Homo sapiens: one gene and its partner. The protein of the gene in region 1 binds, or shares a complex with, the protein of each later gene. Each region holds a gene or a part of one and is shown in the gene's direction. Other genes may lie near its edges.

What was found. Proteins that work in one complex are often made in the same cells at the same time.
Region 2: the proteins of ITGB8 (region 1) and TGFB3 are in contact, whole or in part, in a cryo-EM structure (PDB 8VS6), measured with the Homo sapiens proteins. Residues at the interface, in NP_002205.1 of Homo sapiens: Ser156, Ala157, Ser158, Asn161, Arg206, Gln210, Cys211, Tyr214, Leu216, Ser247, Gly248, Asn249, Ile250, Asp251, Thr252, Glu254; in NP_001316868.1 of Homo sapiens: Gly262, Asp263, Leu264, Arg266, Leu267, Lys268.

The regions. Positions count from the first base shown.
Region 1 is NC_000007.14:20,326,276-20,334,073, forward strand, and holds the start of ITGB8 (integrin beta-8 precursor), read left to right. Parts: upstream 1-4,624; 5' UTR 4,625-5,531; coding exon 5,532-5,658; intron 5,659-5,701; coding exon of another isoform or gene 5,702-5,748; intron 5,749-7,798. UniProt on the Homo sapiens protein: Integrin alpha-V:beta-8 (ITGAV:ITGB8) is a receptor for fibronectin. It recognizes the sequence R-G-D in its ligands.
Region 2 is NC_000014.9:75,957,713-75,965,104, reverse strand, and holds the end of TGFB3 (transforming growth factor beta-3 proprotein isoform 1 preproprotein), read left to right. Parts: intron 1-1,617; coding exon 1,618-1,789; coding exon of another isoform or gene 1,790-1,793; exon of another isoform or gene 1,794-2,044; intron 2,045-4,028; coding exon 4,029-4,182; intron 4,183-5,759; coding exon 5,760-5,918; 3' UTR 5,919-7,008; downstream 7,009-7,392. UniProt on the Homo sapiens protein: Transforming growth factor beta-3 proprotein: Precursor of the Latency-associated peptide (LAP) and Transforming growth factor beta-3 (TGF-beta-3) chains, which constitute the regulatory and active subunit of TGF-beta-3, respectively.

The DNA.
Region 1 (7,798 bases):
GCCCCTTCTCTCCTTTTCCCACACCCAGAAAGCCAGTGTACTAACATATGATGAAAATTCTGAAAACTAGATATTCCCAACAAGGATTTTGAATCTTGAGCAAGTGATCCAAAGCAAAGGGAGGATTCAAAGTTGTTCTTAAGAGTTAGACACTTCCTGCTACTGCTTATGCCTCCGTGTTTTCTGGCCTTGGTTAGTCGTAGTCTCCCAGCTTCCTGCTGATTCTGTGATTCTGTGGGCTCCCAATTTTCTTTCAAGAATTTCCTTTTTTTTTTTTTTTTTGAGACTGTGTGTCATTCTGTTACCCAGGCTGGAGTACAGTGATGTAATTTCAGCTCATCGCAACCTCCACCTCCAGGGTTTAAGCAATTCTCATGCCTCAGCCTCTCACATAGCTGGGGCTACATGTGTGTGCCACCATGCCAGGCTAATTTTACATTTTTAGTAGAGACGGGTTTTGCCATGTTGGCCAGGCTGGTCTCGAACTCCTGACCTCAGGTGATTCTCCTGCCTTGGCCTCCCAAAGTGCTGGGATTACAGGTGTGAGCCACCACACCCAGCCAATAGTTTCCTTTTTTACTTAGAACAGCCATAATCTGACTCTTTACTTGAAACTAGAAGTCATCACAATATGAGATAATTGAGGAGAATCAGAGCTCTGATTTCTGCCTGCTCATGAATTCCCTTGAAAAAGTGAGGTTGGTTTCTTTGCCAGTCTTTGTCTCAGTTTCCACATTTGTAAAATGGGGCTAGCTCTGTAGCATGCTTCGAGGAAAATTAATCTGTGAGATGTTCTCTCATACAGGTTTCTTCCTTTGGAGAATCTAATGGCATGCTGCTCTATTGAGTTTCCGGAAATTCCTCTAGTAAGGGATTTAATTTGACTTTAATTCAGCATTTCCCAAGCTTAATCATGGAAGTCTTGTTTCAGAAAACATTAATATCTCACAGATTGAGTCATCCATAAACTATCTTGGCAAGAGACACTGGCTCCAGCAGTTCATTTTTCTTTGAATTTGCACCTGACACTGATCTCTGTTATTAAACACTCATGAGGCCTTTAAGGAGTCTCTGTATTAACCCATTAAAGTAGGAAGTTCTTAAACTTCAGAGCATATAAAAACCATTTGAGGACCTTGGTATAATGCAGATTGCTGAGCACCATACAAGATCTACTAATTCAGAATCTCCTGGAATAGAGACAAGGAATTAGAACTCAGAATTACTCTATGGGGGATTGTGTTGTATGCAGTCTTCAGTCTACAGTATGAGAAACACTGTCTTATGTAACAATTCAGTGAAAAATACCTTCAAGCAATTTATGTACTTTATCATTAGAAGAAGCTAGAGGTCATAGTCACAATAATATATCTCACTGGTCTGACCATTAATCATCTTCTGAGATGTCTCAGGCAAGCTTATAGATAACTTGTGAATACCCACCCAAAACGTACTGAATGGCTCTGATCCCAACTTCAAAAAGATGTAACATTAAAATTCAAATGTGTCTGTAGGTGCCACTATGAGATCAATAATTTGGGCACATCTAGTTAAAGTGTGAATAGCCACAGCTGTATGTGGTGTCTTACACCTATAATCCCAGCTACACAGAAGGCTGAGGTGGGAGGATAGCTTGAGTTCAAACTTGAACCAGGAGTTCAAGGCCAGTTTGGGCAACATAGTGAGATAGCAAGATTCCATTTCTTAAAAAACAGTCTGAGTGTCTCCCTCACTCCTGCTACCTATCTATAGCTTATTCATTCTCACCATAAACTCACTTAGTGAGAAATCAAGGTTAAAGGAGTAGGGAAGAAATTTAAGTAATTTAATTTTATGACTTTTTAGTAACTCAGCTCAAAGACTCTAATGATAGGAAGCCTGGAATGAATAACTAAAATGTTATTTTTAGACTATCTGTGAATTTCATTTCCTCTCATTACCACAAATGATGAAAAATTAGCTGTCAGAAATTTCAAAGCAATATAGCAGAACATGATGGAAAAACAAATTAATCAAGTCACCATCTTCCGAAACATTTTTCCTTTATTAGAATTCTTCAGGTAATATGACGAAGATAACAATACTGCATTTCTTTAAAATATGCTGTACATTTCCTCATAGGAAAAAGGGTGAGTTATGGTGACCAGTGACATTAACTGGAAACAAGCAAACTTTTGGTTCCTGGGCCACTAGTTGTATTTACTTTAAGAAAACCCTAAAGATGATTTGCAGTCTTTCAGAGAGTTTACTTTTATGTTTACAGCCCAAAATGTGCAGATAACTTGTTTGTAAATAACTGGCAGGGGTCACAGTGTCACATCTAGGAGATTTCATTTTATTTTATTTCGACAACCAGAGTTACAGCCTCTTTACAACTGAGAAGTGGTAATAAATGGTATTGTGCTTATTCTTCAACAACTCCATAGCACTGGCACCTGACATATATTTGCATGAATTTCATGTAACAAAATGTAGAAATCTTTCTTTCTAAAGGGCTTCAAAATTTCCCGAAACAGACTTCTGAACTTCATTTTATTCCTCTTGCTACATGGTTGTTCTGGATTAGTATATATATCAACACCTAAAAACAGAGTTACAAAAATTAGTGCATACCTCATCAATTTCATAAAGTTACATCCTTTCTTGTTTGCATACATTTATATTTTATTTATTACTGTAACTGCCACTTACAACCCAGCAACAAAGAGTTGTATTTTAGAATATTATGGAATGGTGATATGATAGACACTTTAAAGTGTATTGACATGTCCTTATGGGAATTAGGGATTTAATTTTTTTTTTTTTTGATTGAAGCACTGCATGTCTCAAGGGTGGCTGCATTCAGTAGGTCTGTGACATAACCCCTGGAAAATACCCAGGCTGCCCAATGGAAGAGTCACTAATCAGATATTGAATATGATATTTTTGTGTTCAAATTTTCAAGTCCTCACACCCATCCTAACTAATTTTTAGGCCTTTCCTTTAAGACAACCAAAAAACAAAACTATAACTGTTCAAACTTGGAACTAAGGAAAGGAAATAAATATTAAAGCGGAGCTGGATTTATTTCTATTTATTTAGAGTACATCACCTCCAGTAGAATTATGTTGCTAAGGTTGGGATCACGGCTTTGGTCTCGCGAAGGGACCTGCTTTGCAGATCCAGGGCTCGTTTAATTTTCCAGCTGGGTTCCTGCTTTGCTTAACTAATCCTGTGCACCCCGTTGTGCGGTCCACACCTGAAAGGGGGAGTTTCGATGTTGTGGTTTATTAACCAGGTACTTTCCATTCACTCAGTCAACAGAAAGAAAGAGAGAGACCGCGCCTCCTACTTTTTTTTTTTTTTTTTTTTTAACTACAAATAAGGAGACGGAAACTATTAAATAAGAAGGGGGGAAACTCCCGCATATTTCACCTTGACCTGGCTGGACTGGTCTGCTGCCTCTAAGAGGCGGGTGTTGTATTAAAATGAGAGGTCAAACTCCTCGAATGGGAATCGCTCCTGCCCCTAGAGGGAAAAGAGAACCATCACCGTGTTAAACTGGAAACACTGCCTTGTTTCCAATGCGGGGGACTGAGTTCCCTCCCTCGACTTAGCGTGGTAATGACAGGACCCGAGGAGGCGCGCTGCTTCCGGGCAGTTGCCCAGCATAACACCCGCACCCTACTTGCACCTAAATTTCTGAGCTGCAAGCAGGCAGAAGTGCCTTCCACTTTCTCTCCTTAGCTCCCCTCTCCCCGCTTTGCTGCTGTCTGTAACTTTTTGTTCCGTTTACTGGGAAGGTGACGCTTAAGATCAAAAGACCCACTGTAACTTGCAAAAGCCCAGAGCCACCACCAGACGCTGGGGAAAAACAGGGCTGTCCAGTCCAGGGTTAAGGTTTTGAGCAGAGAAGGAGCAGCGAGAAATCTCGGCCAGTCGCTCCGGGAACAGCCCCTGCAGACTGGTCCAACTCTCCAAAGGCTAGGGACACCGGGGCAGCCTTGTGGTGGGGTAGAGGACGAGCTCCTAACTGCAAGCAAAGTGCTGAGTAGAGGGCGTTGGGGGCAGGGGAGGTCCCTTGACTCCACTTTGTATGCAGCAGCTGCGGGGCAGTGAGTATCTCCGAACAAAGCGGCGAGCAGCGCGGGGGTGAGAGATTGGGGTTTGCTCGCAGCTGCCGCTGGCGCTGAGCGAGTCTCCCACCACCCCCGCGAGCGTTGGGGTGCAAGGATTCGGGGGAGGAGGGAGAAGGGAACGAGGCGTGCCATTCCTGTTGCGCGGCTACGCTTCAGGAGTTCTTGTGAACGATGGGAATGGCAACTATCAGAGCCAAGGGGGAAAAGAAAGAGCTGGAGTGAGCAAAACAAAGAGCGAGTGTGGGCCGCGGTGACTTCATGCCTCACCAATGTCCCGCCCACGCTGCTCCGAGCTGTTACTGCTGCTCCTGCCCGGGCTGCAGCCGCGCCTGCGGGCAGCCGAGGCGAGGCGCTCCGGTAGCGTGGGGAGGTTTCCTAGCAACTCTCTGCCCTGAGTGCACCCGGCTACCCGCAGGTCTGGAGCCCCCCGGGGGGCCAGAGCAGGACCACCCCTCTCCCGCCCATCGCCGGCCTCGCCTCTCTCGCATCCTAGCCGTGTGCACCCCAGAGCGCGCCAGCAACTCGGGCTCTGGACTGCGGGACGCCTGAGCCGCGCACTGAGGCGAAAAGGACAAGGGCACGCAGCCCCCGCCCCGCGAAGCCGGGCTCCGGCACCTCGCGGAACCTCCCCTCCTGCGCTCGCAGCCGCAGGCCCCACTCCCCGCCAGGGAGGGAGCGGCGATGCCTCGCTCTGTGCCTGCGGGTGTCGGCGGGTGCTTCTAGGGCGCTCCCAGAGCCGCCTCCCCCTGTTGCTGGCATCCCGAGCTTCCTCCCTTGCCAGCCAGGACGCTGCCGACTTGTCTTTGCCCGCTGCTCCGCAGACGGGGCTGCAAAGCTGCAACTAATGGTGTTGGCCTCCCTGCCCACCTGTGGAAGCAACTGCGCTGATTGATGCGCCACAGACTTTTTTCCCCTCGACCTCGCCGGCGTCCCCTCCCACAGATCCAGCATCACCCAGTGAATGTACATTAGGGTGGTTTCCCCCCCAGCTTCGGGCTTTGTTTGGGTTTGATTGTGTTTGGCTCTTCGCTAAGCTGATTTATGCAGCAGAAGCCCCACCGGCTGGAGAGAAACAAAAGCTCTTTTCTTTGTCCCGGAGCAGGCTGCGGAGCCCTTGCAGAGCCCTCTCTCCAGTCGCCGCCGGGGCCCTTGGCCGTCGAAGGAGGTGCTTCTCGCGGAGACCGCGGGACCCGCCGTGCCGAGCCGGGAGGGCCGCAGGGGCCCTGAGATGCCGAGCGGTGCCCGGGCCCGCTTACCTGCACCGCTTGCTCCGAGCCGCGGGGTCCGCCTGCTAGGCCTGCGGAAAACGTCCTAGCGACACTCGGCCCGCGGGCCCCGAGGTGCGCCCGGGAGGCGCGAGCCCGCGTCCGGAAGGCAGTCAGGCGGCGGGCGCGGGGCGGGCTGTTTTGCATTATGTGCGGCTCGGCCCTGGCTTTTTTTACCGCTGCATTTGTCTGCCTGCAAAACGACCGGCGAGGTCCCGCCTCGTTCCTCTGGGCAGCCTGGGTGTTTTCACTTGTTCTTGGACTGGGCCAAGGTGGTAAGTTGTTTTGTTTTGTTTTGTTTTCTTCTCTTCCCCAAAGGTCTTGGGCTGGCACGAAGAGCTGCCCGGCCAGAGCATCCCGGCCAGGTAAGTTGCGGTCATCAGAGAACTTCAAGGGGGCGGGTGCGGGGCAGCGTCCTCCAGCACAGATGGCCTAGAGGCCAGGTGTCAAGCATTTCTGCCCTGGAGCGACAGCAAGGACTAATTATCAGAGGAGACACTCTGTGTTACTCCTAGGTGTTGAGGAAGCCCTAATAGAAAGGAATTTTGGAAAAGAGGGTGTCCTGTTTACAGAAGTCATTTAGGGGCCCTGGTCCATTCTTAAGGGCATCGTCTGTACACAATGTTCTCCCTATCTTTCTAACATTTGGGTCCACTAAGGACTAACTTGCCTTTAACTCGAGGCTGTAGATAAGTTGGTTATAATGGGAGTAGTCTTCAATTTTTGAGTCCAGAAAAAGACAGCATACAAGTTTCTGCTATCATTAGTGCTCAATCTGAATGAATTACCCACACTGGAGGGATATTAATGCTTTAAGTCATCATCCTTTCGGCTTAAAAAAAAAAAATACTATCTAATTGATCCCTCACTGAGATCAATCTCTGAGACAGAGAAGCAGAAAGAACTCTGAACCAGGATTAACAGCTTTCTGTCCAGGCAAACCATTTGTGTAAGAGCTACCTTAATGTGGAGAGGTTAACTCTTTACGAAATGCATTGTCCTCATCTGTAAAACGAGGTTTATTAATAATACCTGCCTTCTCTAAATCACAAAGGAAAGTTCAAGTCAAATAGCATATGAGAAGGTGTTTTAGGACTTTTGATTTATGAAACAAAATCAAATGTAAGGTGGTATACCAGATTGGATTGTTGGAAAATTACACAACTAAGTAATAGGACGAATCATGAGTTTAGGATGAGTTCTTAATGGTTTTCAATATAGGCCCAACATTTATTTTTGCTAATGCAGTGACTCTTGTCATACTTTCTTTTTTTTTTTTTTTAATTTCACTTTTTCTCTGTTTGGTCACCAAGTCCTTAAATTATATTAGAGCCTTTCTCTGACCTCTTGGGCTCAAGGAGAGTTTAATTAATAGTTGTAATTGTTTTGTAGGTTAAAATTTACTCCTATACTTTAAAGTGTCAAGGTTTTGCCTGAAGCTAATTAAAACAGTCAAATCATAACCTTATAAGTAGGTTTTATATATATAGATATAGAGATATATGGAAACATCCAGCTATCTTTAGGAAATTGTTGCATATACAGTTTTCTAATATTTGTTTCAGGGAGATTTGCTCAGTTATCTGAAATGGAGAAATTAGAGTAAATCTCTTTATCTTGTGGTTATTTTTTGGCTTGTTTGTTGATTTCAAAATAGTGAAAAGGCAAAGGAAAAAGTAACATTCATTATCAGTTATCTCTTAAATGGAAGAAACATGCATTTGTTGCAGCAAATTTTCCGCTAAGCATAATTTCATCCTGTTTCAATAAGTAATAAAGTGCTTTTCTAGATTTAGTAAACACACATACACACTAGTAAAATGACCAAAATTTGTGTTAACACAGTATATTTTGTTCCCAACGTACAGGCAAAGGAAAAAGTCCTACTTGCCTCTAAAATTTACTATTTAAAGTACATTTTTAAAAACCATTAACTGTGCTTATAAACATTAGTCAGGCTCTTGTGAAAAAGCATTGCATTTCTACCCAGTGTCTAAAACTGATTTGAAGGAAATATTATGAATGGGCCTACTTGCACCTGCAGACCTGAAAAGGGAATGCTTATCTGAAATCAGAACAAGGCATCCTTTTCCCAGTCTCTGTCAATATACAAAGGTTTCTGATGTATACTGATTTGCATGGCAGTTAAAAACATGCAAAAAATGTAAATTATAGCCAGTATAACTCAGAAAATTAGAGATCAGCATAAACTGCTGTACTTTTGTGATATAGCTACAAGTCTCAAATTATATGTCTTTACAGTGCAAATTAGATGCTTAAAGCAGAATAGAAATTTAGGTATCAGTTACAATGGAAATCTTGTTTCCTTGCTCAGTAGTTTACACCAGGAGAATGTTGAGGGCAATAAAGCCATACAAAAGAGACCAGAAGCTGCATAAGACCAGCATAACTTTG
Region 2 (7,392 bases), on another chromosome or scaffold:
TCTGGGTTTGGATGATTGCTTCGAGCCTCAGGGTGTTTGTCCCCGGGGTGTTTGGGTAGAGATGGCGAAGTCGTTGAGAGTCATTTCTGGTTTTCCATTATGTTTGCAAGGAACTCAGCCTTGATGATCTCTGGAGTTCAGGGAAGTTCTCTTTTCCTTTCATATTCCCATTTTGGGTAACTGCGGAACGCCTGAGGTCAGAGGCTTGTCTGGGAAAAGGTGCAGGCCTCTTTTGGCTCAGCGCTGGACAGTGATCTTACCCCACATGGGCTCTATTTTACAGCCTTTTCTTAAAGCCAAAGATTTGACACTGTAACCACAGAACCTTAGAGCCCAGAGGACCTTTGGAGTCCTTACCTACAGGCCAGCTTAGGATGAAACCTTCCCATTTCAGTGAATACTTATCTTGTTCATAAAGATTTTCAGAAAAAGGGATTTGTGATCCAGGTCTCTCATTTATCTTACAGATCTGGTGCCCCTTCCTGAGACCCGAGCCACTCCTGTAGCTATGTAAATTAATTCCTCATGTTCCTGTCCTCAGTGAGGATGGACAACAGTTGGCAGCTGTCCTTCGCAAAATCGATCTCCATTTAGTTGAGACTCTTTCTAAGTCAGTCTCCAGTCTTTTCCTTTTTTTTCAGATGAAACGGGTTGATGAATTTAGATTTTCTTTCCAGAGCTTATTTGCTATTTATCATATGCTTCATTATCTCATCTGAATTTTATAGTGAAAACACTTCAAAGACTCTAAGTGCAATGTGAATGTTAACAATTATACAGTCTTGTTTCTTTGGCTCCCATTCAGGCTATCTTAAGTTGTGACACCTTAAATTTTTGGTAGGACTTCTGCGTTATCTTGGTCCATTCACATTTTAAGAGGAAACTCACACCCCAAGATTCTAAGTCTAGAATCTAAAGTGACAATCCAGGGCTGGGTGCAGTGGCTCACACCTGTAATCTTAGCACTCTGGGAGGCCGAGGTGGGCGGATCACTTGAGGTCAGGAGTTCGAGACCAGCCTGGCCAACATGGTGAAACCCTGTCTCTACTAAAAATACAAAAATAGCTGGGCATGGTGGCATGCACCTGTAATCCCAGCTACTTGGGAGGCTGAGGCAGGAGAATCTCTTGAACCCCGGAGGCAGAGGTTGCAGTGAGCCAAGATGGGGCCACTGCACTCCAGCCTGGCCAACAGAGCGAGACTCTGTCTCAAAACAAACAAACAAACAAATAAACAAGCCGACAACCCGGAGATATGTGTTAGGTACCCACTTAGTAACAGGGATGCTTCATAGGTCCATGAAGATTCCTAGGAATCTCAGCAAGGGCTTTCTGCCCCTTGGAAGATTTCTATACAAGGGTATGGGGATCTGAACACGGGGCATCTTTCAGTGGGCATCCTTACAATAATAATGAGTTCTTTTGATACTGGCTTCTCCATCTGCTCTTCCCCTTTCTGCACCTGGACATCAGAATTAAGCTGCACTTGTCCCCCACACCTCCCTCGCAGACTGCACTGCCCCTCCTCCTGGGCAGTGATGGGGCGTGTGGAGGAGGCAGCCTCCAAGGGCTCTGCTCTCTTCAGACAGGAGATTGTCACTTTCCTTCCCTTCTTCAGGCGTGGACAATGAGGATGACCATGGCCGTGGAGATCTGGGGCGCCTCAAGAAGCAGAAGGATCACCACAACCCTCATCTAATCCTCATGATGATTCCCCCACACCGGCTCGACAACCCGGGCCAGGGGGGTCAGAGGAAGAAGCGGGCTTTGGACACCAATTACTGCTTCCGGTGAGACTGGGCCCACATGGGAACCAACATCTACTGCCTGCCTACTGCCCAATGGCTAGGTCAGGCCCCAGAGCCAAGCCACACTCAACAGAGGGTCCCTGATGCTATTCACAAACATCTCCAGGAAGAAGACTGAAAATCTCTCACAGAGATTTTCTCTGTGAAATCTCTTTCTGTTTTCCTGGGAGTCCCACTGTTTTTCCATAGGCTAACTCTGGAAGGAGCTGGCTGAAGTAAATGAGGAAAACTCTGTGAGGAGGAGTGTTGCTAAAATAGTTTGGATTGGAGAGGCTTGGTCAAAGCCTCTCCATGATTTCCATGTTTTAAGCACTTGTAGAGTGTATGTGTGAGATTAATGTAGGAGTTTCCATTAAAGAAGTGCTCAGTTAGTTCCCTATGAAGGGTCCAAGGATGCTACTGGATGGAGGCAAATAGAATGGTCTCCATTTGAACGGAAAGTTGGAGCTAGAGAAATTAACAAATGAATTCAGAAATTACTGGGTAGCCACAATAGAGAGATAGAAAAGACCCAGCTTCTCTTACTCAGGAGCAGTTTCACTGCTCATTTATAAAGGGAGGATAAAGTATGCATGCCAACTACTAAAAGGGAGAAGATGATCACGCCCATGAGAGGGTCCGAAGGATTAAGTGCTTTAACTGGGAGCAATGAGTTCACCTATGGACACAGGAAAGGCTTCAGAAGGGTGTGGAATTTGAGCAGAGGCTTCAAGGATGAGGTTTGGGGATGAAGGGATCCAGGAGGGGAAGCACTGCAGGTAAAGGAAGGAGCATGAGTGAGTGAGTCCATCTGGCCTCAGAGGATGCCGAAATGAAGCTGGGGAGAACGAATTGGGAAATATTTAGATCTGGAAACCATGTCTTATGAGGATGGTTGGGCTTGGGAAACTAGGGATGTTCAGTTGGGGGAACAGCTCAACAGCAAGGTATAGGAGAGGCAAGGTAGTTGCCACAAAGGCTGGCATGTAGATTTATTTATTCCATCAGTTAGGAACAAATCAGTTAGGAACGAATCAGTTATCAGTTAGGAACGAATCAGTTAGGAACGAATGATCTTGGCCAGTGACTTTAATCATAGTGATTTCTTGTTCACAAGAGGCCTGTAGCAGCAGGGTTAGGGTGGGCTGGCTGCTTAATGATGCCACCGAAGACTCAGGCTTTCTCTCTTTCCAGTCTGCCATGCTTAGTATGTTGGCTTTTCATCCTTTTCCTTATGGTCACAAGTGATTGCTAGGGCTTCAGGCACCTTGTCCACATTTAAGACAAGAAGGAATGAGGGAAGGGGAAGAGCCAGAAGCTTTCTTCTTCCATCTGTCACTTTTATAAATAATCGAATATCTTTGCCAGAACTTGCCCTTACCCCCTGCATACTTCTCCTTGTCTGATGGGTCATTACTGGGTCACATGACCACCGCTACTCTCAAGGGAGGACAGGAAAAGGAGCATCTGGTGTTTTCGACTCTGTAATGGGATGTCACAAGGGAGAAGGGAGTTAGGAATGGTTATTGAATAGATAACCAATGGTGTCTGCCATGGTTCACCCTTGGAACCCACAAGAAGCCAGATTTTGGCTAATAGCTGCCTTTGGAAGTAGCAAGTTCTAAGTCTCAGCAGATATTAAAGCAGAGGCTAGCTGTCCACTTGGCAAGCGGTATTATTGCCAAATGATCTCTGTAGGCAACAGAATTGAAGGGGCCTGATAATCACATTTGGGTGATCTGTTGAACCACGGTTCTAATAGAAGGATATGCCTTATTTGGCTAAATGGCCTTTGGATTGAGTCTCAGCAGTCACCTACTATAGTAGTCAAGCTGCATAAACTTAGAATTGATTTCTGTCTGGGTGCACATTAGGAGGGTAAAAATAAAACCAACCTCAACAAAGCTGAGTTGGCTAATAACATTCAGTGCTTGGTTTTATGTGGAGCGCTTCATAGCACTGCTTTGTATTGTGATAGAAAAGGGTGCAGGGCCACCTTTGCCTCTTTACTCTTCCTCATGCAGCATTTATCTCTGTTTCTTACATCCTTGGGATCCTGGTCTTTAACACATGAATGTGCCTTTCTGGTTTCTTCTGCCCCATGCCCTTGAACCTGGGATTCCATTGATCAGAGCCACCTATGATGGCATGAAAGGACTCCAAGGGAGAATATGAGAGCATTCATGAAGTTTCTTTTATTGGTGGTTTTAAGTTGATTTTCTATAAATGTTTTTTGTTGTAGCAACTTGGAGGAGAACTGCTGTGTGCGCCCCCTCTACATTGACTTCCGACAGGATCTGGGCTGGAAGTGGGTCCATGAACCTAAGGGCTACTATGCCAACTTCTGCTCAGGCCCTTGCCCATACCTCCGCAGTGCAGACACAACCCACAGCACGGTATGGAGCAGGCTCATGCCATCTGAGGCACTGGGGCTGACCGACCAGACCACTTGTTAAAAAGAATGAGTGAAGGATTGAATGTTGAGTGAGCAAATGATGGTCTGGGGTGAGTAAAATTCCTCTGGTGAAGGTTCTGATCTTGGCACCCTGACTCAGTTCTACTCAGTCACATTCTGCCCTTTTAAATTCCTACCATAGTTTCAACCAGCTTTTTAATTTGCTTTGTCCAAAGCTCTCTGTACCGTAGAAATTAATTAACTGCCACGTGTTACCCTATGTCAGAGATATGTGCATGTGGCTGGCAAGGAACACTGAAGTAGAAAGGCTTCTATCAGAACTCTGATCATTCCAGCCTCTCGAATGTAGAAAACTTACTCTGAAAGACAACAACAAGGATGGACAAGAAGCTAATTTGAAATGCTAGGAACAGAAAGTGAGATAGCCGAGAGTCCACAACCCCTGAAACTAGTCTGTCTTTCCCTTGAGGGGAATCAAAAATAGGGCAGTAATTTGTGAAGCATGTTTCCTTCTAGCTCATTGTTTCTGCATCCTGTCTGGGGCCCTGCACGCTGCACTTACTAAATGGCTCAAGGCAATGTTTTGTGAGAACATTTCTCACCGAAGTGATCAGTTCCAGCTAGGAAGAGCAATGTAAGTGTTTTCTTAAAAGCCAAGATAGGCCGGGCACGGTGGCTCACGCCTGTAATCCCAGCACTCTGGGAGGCCAAGGCGGGTGGATCACAAGGTCAGGAGTTCGAGACCAGCCTGGCCAACATGGTGAAACCCTGTCTCTACCAAAAATGTAAAAAATTAGCCGGGTGTGGTGGCACGCGCTTGTAATCCCAGCTACTTGGGAGGCTGAGGCAGGAGAATCGCTTGAACCCAGGAGGCGGAAGTTGCAGTGAGCCAAGATTGCACCACTGCACTTCAGCCTGGGTGAAAGAGTGAGACTCTGACTCAAAAAAAAAAAAAAAAAAAAAAAAAAAAAGCCAAGATAATTCGTTATCAGTGTAGTAACTGTCATATGCTTCAACTCATCACCCCAAACAAGTGCAGTTGTTCTGCTTCTGTCATTGTGGATGAACAGCAACTACACAACTACTCACTCACCCAAACCAGGTTCCAACAGTTTTTTTTTTTTTCTTTTTTTTGAGACAGACTCACTCTGTGGCTCAGGCTGGAGTGCGGTGGCACTATTTCTGCTTACTGCAACCTCTGCTTCCTGGATTCAGGTGATCCTCCCACCTCAGCCTCCCAAGTAGCTGGGATTACAGGCGCCTGCCACCACAGCCAGCTAATTTTTTTGTATTTTTAGTAGAGATGGGGTTTCACCATGCTGGCCAGGCTGGTCTCAAACTCCTGACCTGAAGTGATCTGCCTGCCTCTGCCTCCCAAGTCCTGGGACTACAGCTGTGAGCCACTGCACCCGGCCCCCAACAGTTCCTCTTAAAGAGCACCCGTGGCCATTCTAGCACTTGCTCAGCTTCTGGGACTGCCCCTGGAACTGGGCGACTTCCTGGGTTCCAGGCCTGAGACTTGGCCTTCCAACCTCTCACTGACATGTCCCTTCCCAGGTGCTGGGACTGTACAACACTCTGAACCCTGAAGCATCTGCCTCGCCTTGCTGCGTGCCCCAGGACCTGGAGCCCCTGACCATCCTGTACTATGTTGGGAGGACCCCCAAAGTGGAGCAGCTCTCCAACATGGTGGTGAAGTCTTGTAAATGTAGCTGAGACCCCACGTGCGACAGAGAGAGGGGAGAGAGAACCACCACTGCCTGACTGCCCGCTCCTCGGGAAACACACAAGCAACAAACCTCACTGAGAGGCCTGGAGCCCACAACCTTCGGCTCCGGGCAAATGGCTGAGATGGAGGTTTCCTTTTGGAACATTTCTTTCTTGCTGGCTCTGAGAATCACGGTGGTAAAGAAAGTGTGGGTTTGGTTAGAGGAAGGCTGAACTCTTCAGAACACACAGACTTTCTGTGACGCAGACAGAGGGGATGGGGATAGAGGAAAGGGATGGTAAGTTGAGATGTTGTGTGGCAATGGGATTTGGGCTACCCTAAAGGGAGAAGGAAGGGCAGAGAATGGCTGGGTCAGGGCCAGACTGGAAGACACTTCAGATCTGAGGTTGGATTTGCTCATTGCTGTACCACATCTGCTCTAGGGAATCTGGATTATGTTATACAAGGCAAGCATTTTTTTTTTTTTTTTAAAGACAGGTTACGAAGACAAAGTCCCAGAATTGTATCTCATACTGTCTGGGATTAAGGGCAAATCTATTACTTTTGCAAACTGTCCTCTACATCAATTAACATCGTGGGTCACTACAGGGAGAAAATCCAGGTCATGCAGTTCCTGGCCCATCAACTGTATTGGGCCTTTTGGATATGCTGAACGCAGAAGAAAGGGTGGAAATCAACCCTCTCCTGTCTGCCCTCTGGGTCCCTCCTCTCACCTCTCCCTCGATCATATTTCCCCTTGGACACTTGGTTAGACGCCTTCCAGGTCAGGATGCACATTTCTGGATTGTGGTTCCATGCAGCCTTGGGGCATTATGGGTTCTTCCCCCACTTCCCCTCCAAGACCCTGTGTTCATTTGGTGTTCCTGGAAGCAGGTGCTACAACATGTGAGGCATTCGGGGAAGCTGCACATGTGCCACACAGTGACTTGGCCCCAGACGCATAGACTGAGGTATAAAGACAAGTATGAATATTACTCTCAAAATCTTTGTATAAATAAATATTTTTGGGGCATCCTGGATGATTTCATCTTCTGGAATATTGTTTCTAGAACAGTAAAAGCCTTATTCTAAGGTGTATGTCTGACTCGATAAATATCCTTCAATTACCCTTAATTCCATGTCCGCATCTACTAATCAGAGGTAACCAGAATCTGGGGCAGAGAATCTGTCAATCACCAAACACATTGCTTAGCGCAACTCCCCTTACACAGGGGGCACACCGTGCTGACTTCCGCCTGCTAAGAAGACTGCACTATTGCTTGTGCGTCTTTCCTTCTTGCAGAGTATATTATTCTCAGAGACACAGAGGCAGTGGCTCAGATTGGCAGAAAGCACATACGAATTTGACCTCCAGATACCTGTGGGCAGGATCCCCTGGTGTGAATCCTTGCATATGGAAACATGGTTTATTTACTAACTATAAATTACCAACATCACTGTTTTCGAAAATCTCCCCCCACC